Linked DNA regions of Homo sapiens: regions 1, 2, 4 and 5 are each reported to be linked to region 3. The links are microRNA targets in miRTarBase. Many come from high-throughput screens and were not tested one by one. Region 3 holds a microRNA gene; each other region holds the end of a gene's coding sequence.
The links. Region 3 holds the annotated microRNA hsa-miR-6880-5p (UGGUGGAGGAAGAGGGCAGCUC, at 1,156-1,177, shown strand). A microRNA usually pairs through its seed, bases 2 to 8, with sites in the 3' UTR of a target mRNA and lowers its output. Matches are read on the target gene's strand: a 7mer-m8 pairs with bases 2 to 8, a 7mer-A1 pairs with bases 2 to 7 and ends in A, and an 8mer does both.

Region 1 (3,210 bases), not on the chromosome of region 3:
TCAGAAGTAACACCCAGTGATCTCACCTCCTCTCTGATGAAACACCTCAGTGTACTCAGATCCTCTGAAGTAACAAAAATTGTCTCACTTTCTTTCTGAAGTGACGCCTCAGTGATCTCAGCTCTTCTCCAAAGAAACAGTTAAGCTCTTGTCTTCTCTGAACTAACACCTTAGTTATTTTATCTATCTGAAACAACACCTCACAGAATGGCAACACCTCTAAGGTTAACACCTTGGTTATCTGAGCTATCTGAGGTTTCACTTCAGTGATCTCAGTCCCTCTGAAGTAACACCTCAGTAATATTAGTTCCTCTGGAATTTCACTTCAGTGGTTTCAGTTGCTCTGAAGTAAAACACCAGTGATGTCAGCTCCTTTCTCAAGTTAACCAATCAGTTACCAGTTCCTCTCTGGAGTTAATAATTCACTGTTGTCAGTGTCTGTACATAGAAGGGGGAACAAGCTTTTGTCTACATCGTGGTGTTTTGCTGTGGACTTAAGGATCAATGCCTGGATGGGCACAGCAGCTCATGCCTGTAATCCTAACCTTTTGGGAAGGTGAGGTGGGAGGACTGCTTCAGCCCAGGAGTTTGAGGCAGCGGTGAGCCATGATGGCACCACTGCACTCCAACCTGGTGACAGAGCAAGACCGTCTTTAAAACAAACAAAAAGGATCAATATCCTGGTGACTATTTCCTCCCCACCAAACTGACAGATGTTGGGGGCGGGGGCCTGGGGTGAAGACAGCCCTTCTCTATCTCAGGCACTTAACATGTTGAGAATTTCAAGTGGCTTGAACCTCATACATTTGTTTCGTTTGCAGCTGGCTGCTACTAGAAATGGTTCTGATTCGGTTTCAAGAACTGTATCCTTGGCCGGGTGCGGTGGCACACGCCTGTAATCCCAGCACTTTGGGAGGCCGAGGCGGGCGGATCACCTGAGGTCAGGAGTTTGAGACCAGCCTGGCCAACATGGTGAAACCTCATCTCTACTAAAAATACGAAAATTAGTCGGGCGTGGTAGCAGGTGCCTGTAATTCCAGCTACTTGGGAGGCAGAGGCAGGAGAATTGCTTGAACCTGGGAGGTGGAGATTGCAGTGAGCTGAGATTGTGCCATTGCACTTCAGCCTGGGGAACAAGAGCAAGACTTTGTCTCAAAAAAAAAAAAAAAAGTATGCTTAAAACAGAACAAATAATTCTGAATACAAATTTTTAATTATGAATAAACTAGATTCATCTTCATCATAGTAATATGGCAATGGATACTGGACTCTTGAACCAGGAGTAAAAAAATGAAAAAAAAAACCCCTTCAAATATAGGAATAGAAATACTAGAGATAGTAAAAAAGAGCTATCTGAATTTGAGAAATGTATGTTTTAAATATATCTACCAAAGAACAGTATTTTCAGCATTGTTTTGGGGGAAATACCATAAGATGTAAAGAGGTACCCACTTGGTGTAACAGCTATGAGGTCTGCTGAGTGTGAAGCTCCCCTCCTTTGCCTGCATGGGAATTGAGACATCTCACGGTTTCTGGGGCACAGGATCTGCAGGTCATAAGGGCAAGTTTTGAGGAAAATACCCATTTTTGAGTTGAATTTTTACTAAAAAGTTAGCATAACCTTTCTGATCTTGAATAAAGTTAAAAGCTCCAGATAAAGGGTTTTCTAGGCCAGGCATGGTGCCTCACGCCTGTAATCCCAACACTTTCGGAAGCAAAGGTGGGAGGATCACTTGAGGCCAGGAGTTCGAGACCAGCCTGGCCAACACGGTGAAACTCCGTCTCTACTAAAAATACAAAAATTAGCCAGGTGTGGTGGCGCATATCTATAATCCTAGTTACTTGGGAGACTGAGGCACAAGAAAAGCTTGAACCTGGGGTGGGGGCGGAGACTGCAGTGAGCCAAGATCATGCCACTGCACTGCAGCTTGGGCAACAGAGCAAGACTATCTCCACACACACATACAAAAAGTTTTTTAAATTTATGTAATTTCTCACTAATATATAAGCTTTTTCCTTGTTTCATACAAAACAGGACTCCACACACTTAGGATGGAAATCCACACACTTAGGATTTCCAACCATTTTACATGATGCTTGATGAAAATATCTTTTTATATCACTTTATCCATACAATACTTTAGTCTTTTAAGAGAATACTGAAAATAGTCCGACTTTCAAATTTTAAGTGCAATAATTAGTATGGTTAATTGATATTTAGGAAGGGCATGTAATGTTCTTAGAAAAAGAACTTTATTTGGAATGTAAGATTTTATTGGGATAATGGTTCTTATGCCTTAAATTCCCTTAGTTCAAATAAACTAATGTTAAAGAATTATGGCTGTTTTTTACCAAAATTCTCTACAATTGTATGATTACTCTCCAACATAACTTCAAGATGTTGAGGAAAATAAAACAGGTAGTCTCTGAAGTTTTTCCACAGGAACAGCACGCTAAGTGCTTCTTTCTGGAGTTATTTTGTGACACTGAATCGCCAAAGAAAAGCTTCCTATAGAGTTAACAGAGACTTCTCTTGGGCTGAAGGCTGCTTGTGGTTCCACATGCAGTTTCTGTGAGAATGGATTCTTGTGTCAGCCATGGGTCACAACTTTCTGTGCACTTTCTGGTGCTGGATTAGGTGGCCATGCTGGTTGAAGGCACGCCCACACTCCCCGCACTCATAGGGCTTCTCGCCTGTGTGGATCCGCTGGTGCTGGATGAGCACTGAGTACTGGCTGAAGGCCTTCCCGCAGCTATTGCACTCATATGGCTTCTCGCCCGTGTGGGTCCTCAGGTGCACAATCAGAGTTGCTTTCAGGCTGAAGGCTTTGCCACATTCTGTGCACTGGAAGGGCTTTTCACCTGTGTGGATTCTCTCATGCTGGATCAGAGACCGGCGTGCACTGAAGGCGTGCCCACATTCACCACACACATAGGGCTTCTCCCCAGTGTGGACTCTCTGGTGCTGGATCAGGTGTGAGTGCTGAACGAAGGCCTTCCCACATTCGTAGCATGCATAGGGCTTTTCCTCGGTGTGGATCCGCTCGTGATTCATCAGTGTGGAGCGGTGGCTGAAGGTCTTCCCACACTCACTGCACTCATAGGGCTTCTCCCCGGTGTGCACGTTGTGGTGCTGAATGAGGACTGAGCGGTCGCTGAAGGCCTTCCCACACTCGCTGCACGTGTAGGGCTTCTCCCCGGTGTGGATCC
Region 2 (3,210 bases), not on the chromosome of region 3:
TGAGAGGCTGACGTGGGTGGATCGCTTGAGCCCAGGAGTTTGAGACCAGCCTGGGCAACATGGCAAAACCCTGTCTCTACAAAAAGTTAAAAAAAAAAAAAAAATTAGCTGGGTGCAGTGGCACGTGCCTATAATCCCAGCTACTTGGGAAGCTAAGGTGGGAGGATTGCTTGAGGTGGGAGGGTTGCTTCAGCTGGGCTGTCCAGGCTGCAGTGAGCTGAGATCATGCCACTGCACTCCAGCCTGGGTGAGAGTGAGACCCTGTCTGAAAAAAAAATTTTTTTTGTTTTTCATGTTTTAATTTATTCTGCAGGTTCCAAGAAACTACAAAACTCAGCATCAGAGATCCAGAGCAGGGTTTAGAAGGATCTCTAGAACAGCCTGCAAGCCCCAGGAAAGTACTGGAGGAGCTGTCTCATCAGTCACCAGAAAATCTCGTATCACTTGCTTAATCACTACACTTAAAATTACTGCTTTTGAAAAATATTAAGCAGCTAACTTGGGTTTGAGTCAAGGCAGGGAAAACTTGGGTTTTGAGTCATGGCTACTGTTAGAGGATGGACAAATGAAGAGTAGCAGATTAACAGGCCAGGCGCAGTGGCTCACGCCTGTAATCCCAACACTTTGGGAGGCTGAGGCAGGCAGATCATCTGAGGTCAGGAGTTTGAGACCAGTCCAGCCAACACGGCAAAACTCCACCTCTACTAAAAATACAAAAATTAGCTGGGCGTGATGACACGTGCCTGTAATCCTAGCTACTTGGGAAGCTGAGGCAGGAGAATCACTTGAACCCAAGAGGCAGAGGTTGTAATGAGCTGAGATCACTCCACAGCACTCCAGCCTGGGCAGCAGAGCAAAACTCTGTCTGAGAAAAAAAAAGAGCAGCAGATAACAGAGAATAGTTCAAGGAAATCAAAGTGGGGAGGCTCAGGTGGAGGGATGGTAGCCTAAAGTTAAGGGTTCCTGCTTTGTGCCTCACACTTAGAGAATTAGGTACAGAAAAGAGAGCACAGGCCCAAATGCCTATAAGGGGCTAGTGCAGAAACATAAATGCGTCCATGGAGTGGGTGTAGACAGTAGGAGATAGTAGACACTGGAAAGTATCAAATCCTGCTGGAATATAGGCTCAGAGTTACTACATCAACTACATTTTCATCAAGCCAGAAATTTGTATGCTATCAACTAATTTAAAAATTACTTAGAAATATTGTATGGGCAAAATAAAATACATCTGCATATCAGATCTAGCCCATGGGGGATGAAAAACTTACAACTTCTAGTACAGGATTTCTTATCCTCAGTGCTATTAATATTTTGGGCCACCTAATTCTTTGTTGAGGGTTGGGGAAGGGAACTGTCCTGTACATTGTAGAATGTTTAGTAGCATCCCTGGCCACTACCTGCTAGATGCCAGTAGTACCCCTCTCCCCAGCTGTGACAACCAAAAATGTCTCCAGATATTGCATATCCCCAGGGGGCAAAAATGTGCCTGGCTGAGAACCACTGCTCTAATATAAATGGCTGCATGAAGCAAAAACTGGCATTCTAAGAATACAAGTAATTGCCATGAACACAGTCTATGTACTATGTGATTATGCATGTCATTAACAAATTAAGAATTTAAAACAATTCTCTCCCGTTATCTGTTTAGAATGTGCCTGTGTGTTTATGTGAGCATGAGGTTCATTTTAAGTAAACTTAAAATTTCCCAGACAACCAAGATTTTCTACTAGTAGGTGAACTTTGGAATAATTTTCTTCTCACCAATAATAATTGGATATTCTGGCTCGGTGCAGTGGTTCATGCTTGTAATCCCAGCACTTTGAGGGGCCAAGGCAGGAGGATCGCTTGAAGCCAGGCGTTCAAGACCAGCCTGGGCAACACAGACCTCATTTCTACCAAAAAAACCACAAAAAGTTAGCTGGACTGGTGGTACATGCCTATAGTCCTAGCTATTCAGGAGGCTGAGGTGGGAGGATGCCTTGAGCGTAGGAGTTCAAGGTTACATTGAGCTATGATTACACTACTGCACTCCAGCCTGGGTGACAGAGCAAGACCCCATCTCAAATCATAATGATGATGAGTGGATATTTTCTCAGTAGCTGTGGAGACAGGATGACTGATAGCAAGAGTGCCTGCTCTAACTAAAGCACCTTTCTCAAGCTTTTTTAAAAAAACTATCTTTGTGGAAAAATTCAGAAGTATCTGTTTTTATTGCCATTTTCTCAGATGCGTCTTTTTTGGTGGTGACAGAGTAACTATCACCTGGGCTTAAGAAATGAAGATGTTCTTGTTGTTTCCTAAGACTCCTCGGTTCAGTTTTACTGGTATGGAATCCTAAGGGTAAATCAATACACTATTTTAAAGGGAAAGATTAAATTCTTAATCTCTAAGAAAACAAATTTTGTATAAAACAAGAGCCAAAGAACTGACTGGGCTGTTTTGTTTATTTAAAGGAAAACCTGAATCTCTGCATCATGTAATTTTTAACTTTAAAAAAACAAAAACATGAAATCCCTCTTAACATGCTACTGTATGTTCCATTAACGAAGAAAGCAAAGTGACCAAGTAGAAGTGTATAGGACAAGATAGTACCTCAGCCTGGGCCAAGGGGAGATTCAAGTAATTTATTTTTTTGCAGCCCAGTGGCAGAGAGTCTCTTACTCAGGTTGCTAAAGGGAGAATGTAACAAGAGAATTGACATCACTCCCTTCTTCAAAGCAACAAGGCATCTTGAAAACTCAACTTCCTGGTGAAGCTCTGTTGTTGGTAGCAGGAATTATTTCATCCATGTGAAAAGACAGCTGAGTCTGGGATGAAAACTCTTCAAAGGAAAACCTCCCCTCAACAGTCAGAATGAAGAACTTCAGCCAACACATAATCAAATTCACTTTTGGTCTATCCCAGAAATTTGCAGTGGGAAGAGAGGTAGGTACAGTTTCCCAGCCCACAGTCATTGCTTCATTCCTTGTCTGATCAGATGGTAGTTAGAAAAGAAGCTCTCCTACATCCATCTTCTATACCAGGAAAGAGGAAGAGTGGCAAAAGCAGAGTCTTGTGCCTTCAAAGATTCATTCTGGTTCTGTTGTGGGCTAAGGCATCCTGTTCCCAGTATACGCATTTTGAGATCAGATAGAGTTGCTCTTCCAGGAGTCAGCACCCACGCTCATGTCCGTCTTTCAGTTAAATCTCCTTGGTTTAGTAACTGTA
Region 3 (3,000 bases):
GCAGTTACAGGCACGTGCAACCACACCCGGCTAATTTTTATATTTTTAGTAGAAATGCGGTTTCACCACGTTGGCCAGGCTGGTCTCAAACTTCTGACCTCAAGTGATCTGCCTGCCTCAGCCTCCCAAAGTGCCGGGATTACAGGCGTGCGCCACCGCACTCAGCCTCCAGGACCTATTTAGAGGCAACTTACTCCTCCAAAATGAATTTTCATTCAAAAAAGTACTTGTGCCCCAACTTGCCGCTTGGATGCCTGAAGTCATACCTCCCCTAATCATTATTTCAATTATGAAAAATGGCATCGTTTCCCAAAAGCAGTGGCGACTTTGTCACCCCTGACTCAGACCCAGCAGGTGCATGAAGCACTAATCCCTGGCTGTGGGGAGCAGGGTTCCGCACACAGGCTCTGTGGGATATGCCCGTGACAGCCGATTCAAAAATATAATGGAGAAAACGAGTGCCTGCCCACTGCCCGCTCATGAATGAGGCTCTGGGAGGTAGAGTTAGCGAGAGATGGGGGTGCCCCCATGGAAACGCAGGGCTCCGGGAAGGCCACGTGGGTGGAGCAGCCGGCTCCTGTTCCAGCCCCAGCCCTGTGCAGGGGCAGCTGTGCCCCAGCTTCTCACTCACAGAGCTGGGAACAGCAGCTTTCTCTGTTCTCAACGCCCACCCTGGCCGCCCCCTGGCATCCTTCCCCTTGCTCTCTCACTCCTCACGTGGCTTTTTTAGCTCTTCGGGTATCCTGAGCAGGCCCAGCTCCCTCATGTGCCCCCTCCCTGAAGACCTCCTAGCCCTGCCTCAGCTTCCTTGCCGTTCTCTCCTGGTACCTCATTGACTACCTCCACACAGTTACCAGGCTCTGTAGAGCTTGGGATATCTGTTAATGTGATCGTAGTCTGTTTTCTGAATTAGATGGTAAGATGCTTGCATCCGTTTTATGACCGCTGTATTCACAGTGTCTAGAACAGTGCCTGGCACCTAGTAGCTGCTTAATCAGAAGTTTTGGAATGATGCAAGGAATGAATGAACGAATGAGTGGGATGGGTCAAACCATGACGCACAGAGTCTGGCAGGTTACAGTCAGGAGGGCAGTTTCACTCTGGGAGCAGCAGGGGATGTGGATTTATCCCAGGGCAATGGGGACTCATCGAGGGTGGTGGAGGAAGAGGGCAGCTCCCATGACTGCCTGACCGCCTTCTCTCCTCCCCCAGGTCCACCTCCACCTCCTCACCCGTTCGCCCGGCTGCCACATTCCCACCTGCCACCCACTGCCCACTGGGCGGCACCCTCGATGGGGTCTACCCTACCCTCATGGAGCCCGTCTTGCTGCCCAAGGAGGCCCCCCGGGTCGCCCGGCCAGAGCGGCCCCGAGCAGACACCGGCCATGCCTTCCTCGCCAAGCCCCCAGCCCGCTCCGGGCTGGAGCCCGCCTCCTCCCCCAGCAAGGGCTCGGAGCCCCGGCCCCTAGTGCCTCCTGTCTCTGGCCACGCCACCATCGCCCGCACCCCTGCGAAGAACCTCGCACCTCACCACGCCAGCCCGGACCCGCCGGCGCCACCTGCCTCGGCCTCGGACCCGCACCGGGAAAAGACTCAAAGTAAACCCTTTTCCATCCAGGAACTGGAACTCCGTTCTCTGGGTAAGACCACCCTGACAGCGGCCACCTTCATAGACGCGATTATCATGCGTCAAATTGCTCACGATAAAGGGGCGCGAGAAGGAGGTGCGCTGGCCAACGGCTCCCCTCGCGATGGTAAGACTTCCGGCCCGCACCCACCCCGTCTCGTGGTCCAAAGATATTTTCAGATCTCTGCTTTTTACTTTGGCCCCCGTTTTTTTTGTTGTTGGTTTTGGTATTTTGTTTTGAAGCCCATCCGTCCTCGCCGGTTTGCACGCGCTGACGACTACTCCGGCCGCGCCTGCCCCTCTGGTTTGGGGGCGCTCATCATTTGCACATCATTTTACCATGGTTTTTTTTTTTTGGATTTTTGCTTTTTTTTCTTTAATGAATGGATCTGTGATTCTGACTTCGACTGCGCCCCCATCTCCCTCTTTGCGCCTGTGTCCAGGGAGCAGGGATGGGGCTGCGGGAGGGCTCGGGCCTACGCCCCCACCTGCCGGCTGCCTGGATGCTGTCGGACTGGGGGAAGTGGAGGCAGGCGGTGCAAGGAGAAGCTGAGGCGGGGCAGGGACCTGCGCTGTCGAGGAGGAGCTGGGTCTGGCTCTTGCATCTTGCCCTGTCCCCAGCCCCTGTACCCCAGAAAAAGGGGAGCCCTCTGCCTCTGGACCCCTGCCTTGGCCCTAGTTCATGGCTCCTCTCTGTTGGACTGGGATGGCCGAGGCTATAGCCCAGGCGGGGCCCCGGGGACCCAGGGTCACTCCCAGCCACACCCCCACTTCTCACTCCGCCCCACACACTCCTTCCCCAGAGACCCATGCTGCCCCCATCTCACGCTGGCCTCGCCCGGCCTCCACCACCTGAACCCATCTCTGTCCCTTCTTGCCTAATCTCTCTCTGTGTCTCCCTCTCTGTCTGTCTCTGTCCCGGGCTCTGCATCTCTCTCCACCTCTCCCTTGGCCTCCCTGTCTCTCCCCAACACCCCTCTCTGCCTTACTGTCTTTGGGAGCCCAAACCCTACCCCTAGCTTGGGTTCCCCTTGACCCCCCCGGGGTCCCAGCCAGCTGGGAGGGCAGCCCTGCCCCTCGGGCTCCGAAACCCTGGGCCCGGTGCCTGACTCTGCACCCCCCGCCTGCCCTAGGTTACCACGGCAGCAGCTACAGCCCCGAAGGGGTGGAGCCCGTCAGCCCTGTGAGCTCACCCAGTCTGACCCACGACAAGGGGCTCCCCAAGCACCTGGAAGAGCTCGACAAGAGCCACCTGGAGGGGGAGCTGCGGCCCAAGCAGCCAGGTACGCCCCACCCAGTACCCAGGCCCCCGAAGCCCTGCACAGTGAGGACCCTCAAGGCCCCATCATGCAGATAGGAAAACAGAGGTGCCT
Region 4 (3,210 bases), not on the chromosome of region 3:
TGTGCTTTGAAGAGGCAGCACAACAAAGTTGATTATCACATGGGTCTTGGGGCTAGATTGGTGGACTCTTGCTTGATCTGGGCCATATCACTTCACCTCACTGAGTGTCGAAACCTTCACCTCTGGAATGGGAATAGAAACAGTACCTGTCTCGAAGCATTGTTGTAAATGATAGATGAATTAATCCATGTAAAAGGTTTTCAAACAGTAGTACTTAAATGCTGAATTATTCTAAATGTTAACTCTTAAAAATGTGTCCCTGCCTTTTAGAACCCCACAGTCCAGTAACTGATAAGATCTACTTGTATGATATTCTAAGGAGGATACTTGTGTATACTTTATCTCTTCAATAGGCTGAATATTCTGAACTGGTCGAAACATTACTATCAAGTCAGCAAGACCCAGTTATTTACCAGAGATTAGCAGATGCCTTCAACAAGCTCACTGCAAGCAGCACTCCTCCTACGCTGGATCGGAAGCAGAAGATGGCCTTCTTAAAGAGTTTAGAAGAATTTATGGCAAATGTTGGTGGTCTCCTTTGTGTAAAATAAACAACAGAACTTTATGCTTAATTTAGATCCTTTCTGCAAAGTGCACTGAATTGCTGAAAGTTGACTTGAGTCTTGTCCTATTCCTCAGTTCATTTGGCCATTTTGGATTTTGGAGAGCCTGAAACTTTGATATGTATGTAATACAGTGAAACAGGAGAGGTCAACTTGGCATCAGCTTCTGCTGTTAAGTGTTAGCCACAATCTGTCATATATATGTCTTTTAGATTCTGAATGGTGATTTAAAATTTTCAAAATGAAATTCCATATATGTGCAAACAGATATGGGCACCACGAAATACATATGCAGTGCCTTTTTTCCTTTTAACATAGGTGGCTAGCCAAAGTTTAGAATTTTTGTCATTAAATATGAAATGGATATATGCTAGGCAGTGTTTCTCAAAATCTCCATAGATCGCCTGCATCACTTGAGGAGCTGGTGAAAAGGCAGATTCTTAGGCCCAACTGTAGACCTTCAGAGTCAGAATGTCTGGTTGTTGGGCCCAGGAGTCTTCATGTTAATAAGCTTCTCCCTTTCGTCACCCCAAAAGTTTTGAATCAATGAAAGAGACATTGAAAACTCTTAAGAGGTTTTGTGCTTTCTAGCTTTTCCTCCCTTTGATGATTGGGTTTTATAATTCAGCAGGAAGGGGAAACATCACCAGGGGTTTGTTGGCTTTTTCTTAGCTTGCTTTCTTGCTTGCTTGCTTTCTTGCTTTTCTTGCTTTCTGTCTCTCTCTTTCTTTTCTCTCTCTCTCTCACATCAACCCAGTGCTGCAGGTTTTGTGTAATACAAGTCACTAATCATACTCTGATGCCTGAACTTGAGGAGGAAAATACATGTATATTTTTGTTCCGTAAAAATAACCTTAGGAACTGTAGCCATTTCATTGCCTTAATTTTAAGAGGAAAATACAAAAACAGCTGATTTGTTTTAGTAAGAAACCACGTCTTGATGCTTCAGAGTTGGTTTAGGGTGTTAGCTGCTATGAACCTGTTGCCCCTTTCGATCGTGTATTTATGTAGGTTTATCAGTGAAATGAAAGGCTTGTTTCCGTCTAGTCTAACTTTTTGAGTGTGTTTCTATCCAGCCACATAGCCCATATCTACTCTAAATGGCTTGCTTAAGCAATAATTATTTTAAAGGATGTGAATCACTGATTCACACAGACTATTGCACGTTGGGGCATTAGGGGCAATAATTCTTATCCAGACATGGGAGCCAGTGAATTTAATTTCAGAGATTAAAAATTCACTTTAGATCCTCTAGTTTGATCTCTTAATCAGGATTTTTATACAGCTGCCAGGCTCCCCTAATTCAGTGTGCCAGCTTACAATGTGGAAATGAAAGCTAATTTATACACAGCAGGCATATGAAACTCCACTCATTGCAGTACTTTCACAGCACAGTGACAGGTAGAGGACTCTGGCACAGGTGCACTCATGAAACTCTGCTTCCACCATGTTCCTGACACCTATCTATTAAACCATTCTGCAAATACGGTTTTTCTACCTGATTGCATATAGCATATGTGTCATTACATGTGATGCTGTGCAAAACTTTGTATAATTCTGTGTTATTAACAGTTAACAAAACTGGAGCATCTGAATTACATCCAACCTGTGCATGTGATGTTAGGTAGATGTGAATGCAGGGCCTTGGGCCATAACTTACATTTCTCTCAATTTGATTAGCTTTGAGTCACAATTAAGGGGAAGCAAAAACATCTTGAAAAGACTGCTAGGAAGGAAATTAATATCAGTCATCCAGAAGTACACGTTTCTGTATTTTAAAAAATACTTTGATGCATTTATTTTTAGGTGTTTTTTTTTTCCCCTTAAAAAACTTGAAGTGATATGCAGCAGTAATCTATTTGTTTTGCATTGTTCTTGGTGTTTTGTGTTTCCCAGATCCCTCAAGCTTTCTCAGCTGTTGTGAATTATGTGTATCTGTGTGTGTGCTAAGTACAGTCTCTTTACCAAAGGGCACTGAAACACACAATTGACTGGACAGGTCCACGCGCCATGACAAAACTATAATCAAGTTATTAAAACTAAAGAGGAGTGGGAAAGGAATGCCTTGGTAAGTAAAAAGGCATCTATATTTAATAACTTTTATCCAGATGGCAACATATTTGCAAAATTTGCCCAGATCCTATTACAATACTAAAAATAGAAAATTTCACCTCCATATTCCTGAGGTGTAATTTCATTAGACTAGTTTTAGTTTAAAAAGACCTTCTTCAGATTGGACCAAATAATACTTATAAGATCAGCAGAATGTTGAATATTAGCTCACTGGGGTGGGGAGAAGCCACTACCATTTTTTAGGTGATGGGGATGCCACTGAGTTGCAACGGCTAGACCTTTTCAGGGTGGTTGTGTCCATGTTTGCCTGATTGGATGCTTATTCACTTTGTGTTTTCTTTTGTTTTATTTTGTCCAATTTTGTCTTTAGCTGTGTTTATTAACTTCTCCGGTCTTGTTTTGTTTTAATGCTCTTGGCCCAGTGGGTGTCAAGAACACTGGCTTAATTCAAGTCAGTTGATTTTTTTTCTATTAAAACTGTTGTTAAAATATTTTTTAAAACAAAAACATTATTTGTGCCCTCTTTTATATATGTCAAAGGGACACTGTCAAGTATTTCATTTTTAGATTTTTG
Region 5 (3,000 bases), not on the chromosome of region 3:
AGTGTTGCTCAATTCTAGAATACCAAATAAGCCAATTAAGATTTTTAAACTAAATGTGTTGTAATTTTGTCTTTTGACAGTGCCATTGTACAGGTGATTCACTACTCCACCACTCCACTCACCTACTCACAATGACGGTTTTCAACATTTCAGGAACGGTTTCTACCTTAGGCTCAGAGCAATTCCTACTTCTCCCTCATGAGGAATTGGAGGAGGTGGTGATAAAATTCTTCATCTGGTTGTGAGGTGGTATTTCACACAACTCCTTGATAAATATTGGAGGTGATACTGGATACAGGAAAACTTACAATAATCAGATTGTTACAGGTAGTTAGGCATCAACAGGGCAGCAGAGGGCTCTCTCCCGACCCACTAGAAATGTCAGGTGATGGTTCAGCAATTAACAAATTGCCTCTCTAAGAATGAGAATTCGGCAGCCAGGGAGAGACAATCTCTTGATGGTCCACACCTGTTAACATTAAAAGTGTTAATTGAATACAGCCCCCCAAGCAGCAGCTTCTTGGGCACCCGTGTTAAGAGACAAATGGCGAAGTATAGGCCGGGCACGGTGGCTCACACCTATAATCCCAGCACTTTGGGAGGCTGAGGTGGGTAGATCACCTGAGGTCAGGAGTTCAAGACCAGCCTGGCCCACATTTTATATTTTTTGTATTTTTAGTCTCTACTAAAAATACAAAAATAGGCATGGTGGCACGTGATGGCGTGCGCCTTTAGTCCCAGCTACTCAGGAGGTTGAGAAAGAAGGATCACTTGAGCTTGGGAGGTGGAGGATACAGCGAGCTAAGATCATGGCACTGTACTCCAGGCTGGCTGACAGAGACTCCAAAAAAAAAAAAAAAAAGAAAAGAAAGGCCGGCACCGTGGCTCATGCCTGTAATCCCAGCACTTTGGGAGGCTGAGGCGGGCGGATCACGAGGTCAAGAGATCGAGACCATCCTGGCTAACACGGTGAAACTCTGTCTCTACTAAAAATACAAAAAATTAGCTGGGCGTGGTGGCGGGCGCCTGTGGTCCCAGCTACTTGGGAGCCTGAGGCAGGAGAATGGCATGAACCCGGAAGGTGGAGCTTGCGGTGAGCCGAGATCATGCCACTGCACCCCAGCCTGGGCGACAGAGCAAGACTCCATCTCAAAGAAAAAAAAAAAGGAATTTATAATTATATATTATTCTGTATCTTTATATATTAATTATATATTCTATAATTTTTTTGAGATGGAGTCTTGCTCTGTCTCCCAAGTTGGAATGCAGTGGTGCAATCCCAGCTCAATGCAACCTCCACCTCTGGGGTTCAAGCGATTCTCCTGCCTCAGCCTCCGGCGTAGCCAAGACTACAGGTGCATGCCACCATGCCCGGCTAATTTTTGTACTTTTTGGTAGAGATGGTGTTTCACCATGTTGGCCAGTCTGGTCTTGAACTCCTGACCTCAAGTGATCCTCCTGCCTTGACCTCCCAAAGTAATGGGATTATAGGTATGAGCCACCACGCCAGGCTATATTCTATAAATTCTAAAGAGAATGAAAAGGACTTGCCAAGCTTCCTTTGGGAGATACTAAATTTGTTTTTTTTTTTTTTTTGAGACGGAGTCTCGCTCTGTCACCCAGGCTGGAGTGCAGTGGCTTGATCTTGGCTCACTGCAAGCTCCGCCTCCTGGGCTCACACCATTCTCCTGCCTCAGCCTCCTGGGACTACAGGTGCCTGCCACCACACCCGGCTAATTTTTTTTTTTTTTTTGTATTTTTAGTAGAGACAGGGTTTCACTGTGTTTGCCAGGATGGTCTCGATCTCCTGACCTTGTGATCCACCCGCCTCAGCCTCCCAAAGTGCTGGGATTACAGGCGTGAGCCACCACCCCTGGCCCAAATTTTTTTTTTTTTTTTTTTGAGACAGTGTCATACTATGTCATCCATACTGGAGTGCAGTGGCACCATCATTGCTCACTGCAGCCTTGACCTCCCTGGGCTCAGGCGATCCTCCCACCTCAGCTTCAGGAGTAGCTGGGACTACTGGTGTGTACCACCATGCCTGGCTAATTTTTGTATTTTTAGTAGAGACAGGGTTTTGCCATGTTGCCCAAGCTGGTCTCAAACTCCTTGGCTCGTGATCCTCCTGCCACGGCCTCCCAAGTGCTGGGATTACAGGCATGAACCACTGTGCCTGGCCTAAATTTACTTTTATAACAATTACTTTTTAAAATGTCAGAACTTCCTTATAATTACACACATATATTTTTATACAAATGCACAAAGGTAATCACATCTTATCTGGATTTCTGTGTGCACCTTTTCTTAAAAATGTTAACAATCACATATAACCTCGTAGAAATTGTTTTCGTTTGCAGATGCCTCCTTTTTCATAAAATTATGTCCTTGTTTTATAATGCTGTCTTTTCCAATATAGCTGGGATCACGCCACTGCACTCCAGCCTGGGTGACAGAGCAAAACTCCATCTTGGAAAAAAAAAAAAAAAAGAAAGAAATATAATTGGTGATGCTTCTGAAGAGAAAATCCTTTGTGGTTCTTCATATTCCTAACTTGCATGACACTCTTGCTCAAAGAAGGATACCTGCTCCTAAAACCCGTCTACCAGCGGGTCTGGCTACTGTTGCTGTGGATTCCTGGGCAATACCAATCCTGCTCAACGCTTTGGATGTCCCACTCTGCCTCAACTCCAATCGGCCTCTATCATTGCAAACAGTTGGCTGAGCCTTTTCTTAATGTCCAGTTCATTTGGAGCAGGACAGGATTTTGTGTGTACTCTGATGTGCTCCGCAAGCTTAGACTTGTAAATGAAGCCCTTCCCACAATCGCCACAGGCAAAGGGCCTCTCGGGCCTGTGGATGCGCTGGTGCCTCAGCATGTGTCCCCTTTCCCGGAAGTTCTTGTCACACTCAGGGCAGTGAAAAGGCCTCTCCCCTGTGTGCAGGCCCTGATGGCTGAGCAGCTGCGCCTTCAGGCGGAAACTCTTGTCACACTTGGGA

Region 1: the mRNA of ZNF250 is a reported target of hsa-miR-6880-5p. Seed matches in the 3' UTR shown: 7mer-m8 at 1,083-1,089.
Region 2: the mRNA of FAM161B is a reported target of hsa-miR-6880-5p. Seed matches in the 3' UTR shown: 7mer-m8 at 694-700.
Region 4: miRTarBase lists XPO4 as a target of hsa-miR-6880-5p. Seed matches in the 3' UTR shown: 7mer-A1 at 2,005-2,011.
Region 5: miRTarBase lists ZNF786 as a target of hsa-miR-6880-5p. The part of its 3' UTR that is shown has no 7-base or 8-base seed match.

Annotation. Positions count from the first base shown.
Region 1 is chr8:144,878,913-144,882,122 of GRCh38, forward strand. ZNF250 (zinc finger protein 250) reads right to left here. Exons shown (of 6, transcript NM_001109689.4): 6 at 1-3,210. The coding sequence ends at 2,603. Among named protein-coding and RNA genes, the nearest start is that of ZNF250, 21 kb to the right of the region's middle. RefSeq lists enhancers at 125-274, 475-664.
Region 2 is chr14:73,931,498-73,934,707 of GRCh38, reverse strand. FAM161B (FAM161 centrosomal protein B) reads left to right here. Exons shown (of 9, transcript NM_152445.3): 9 at 314-2,432. The coding sequence ends at 452. ZNF410 (zinc finger protein 410) reads right to left here. Exons shown (of 12, transcript NM_021188.3): 12 at 2,187-3,205. The coding sequence ends at 3,167. Among named protein-coding and RNA genes, the nearest start is that of FAM161B, 17 kb to the left of the region's middle.
Region 3 is chr12:124,335,393-124,338,392 of GRCh38, reverse strand. It overlaps MIR6880 (microRNA 6880), which reads left to right and starts at 1,151; the gene lies at 1,151-1,212. It overlaps NCOR2 (nuclear receptor corepressor 2), which reads left to right. Exons shown (of 49, transcript NM_006312.6): 40 at 1,213-1,640; 41 at 2,761-2,910. RefSeq lists a silencer at 1,759-1,939.
Region 4 is chr13:20,781,063-20,784,272 of GRCh38, reverse strand. It overlaps XPO4 (exportin 4), which reads left to right. Exons shown (of 23, transcript NM_022459.5): 23 at 354-3,210. The coding sequence ends at 551. Among named protein-coding and RNA genes, the nearest start is that of EEF1AKMT1, 8.7 kb to the right of the region's middle.
Region 5 is chr7:149,067,739-149,070,738 of GRCh38, forward strand. ZNF786 (zinc finger protein 786) reads right to left here. Exons shown (of 4, transcript NM_152411.4): 4 at 1,903-3,000. The coding sequence ends at 2,685. Among named protein-coding and RNA genes, the nearest start is that of ZNF786, 21 kb to the right of the region's middle.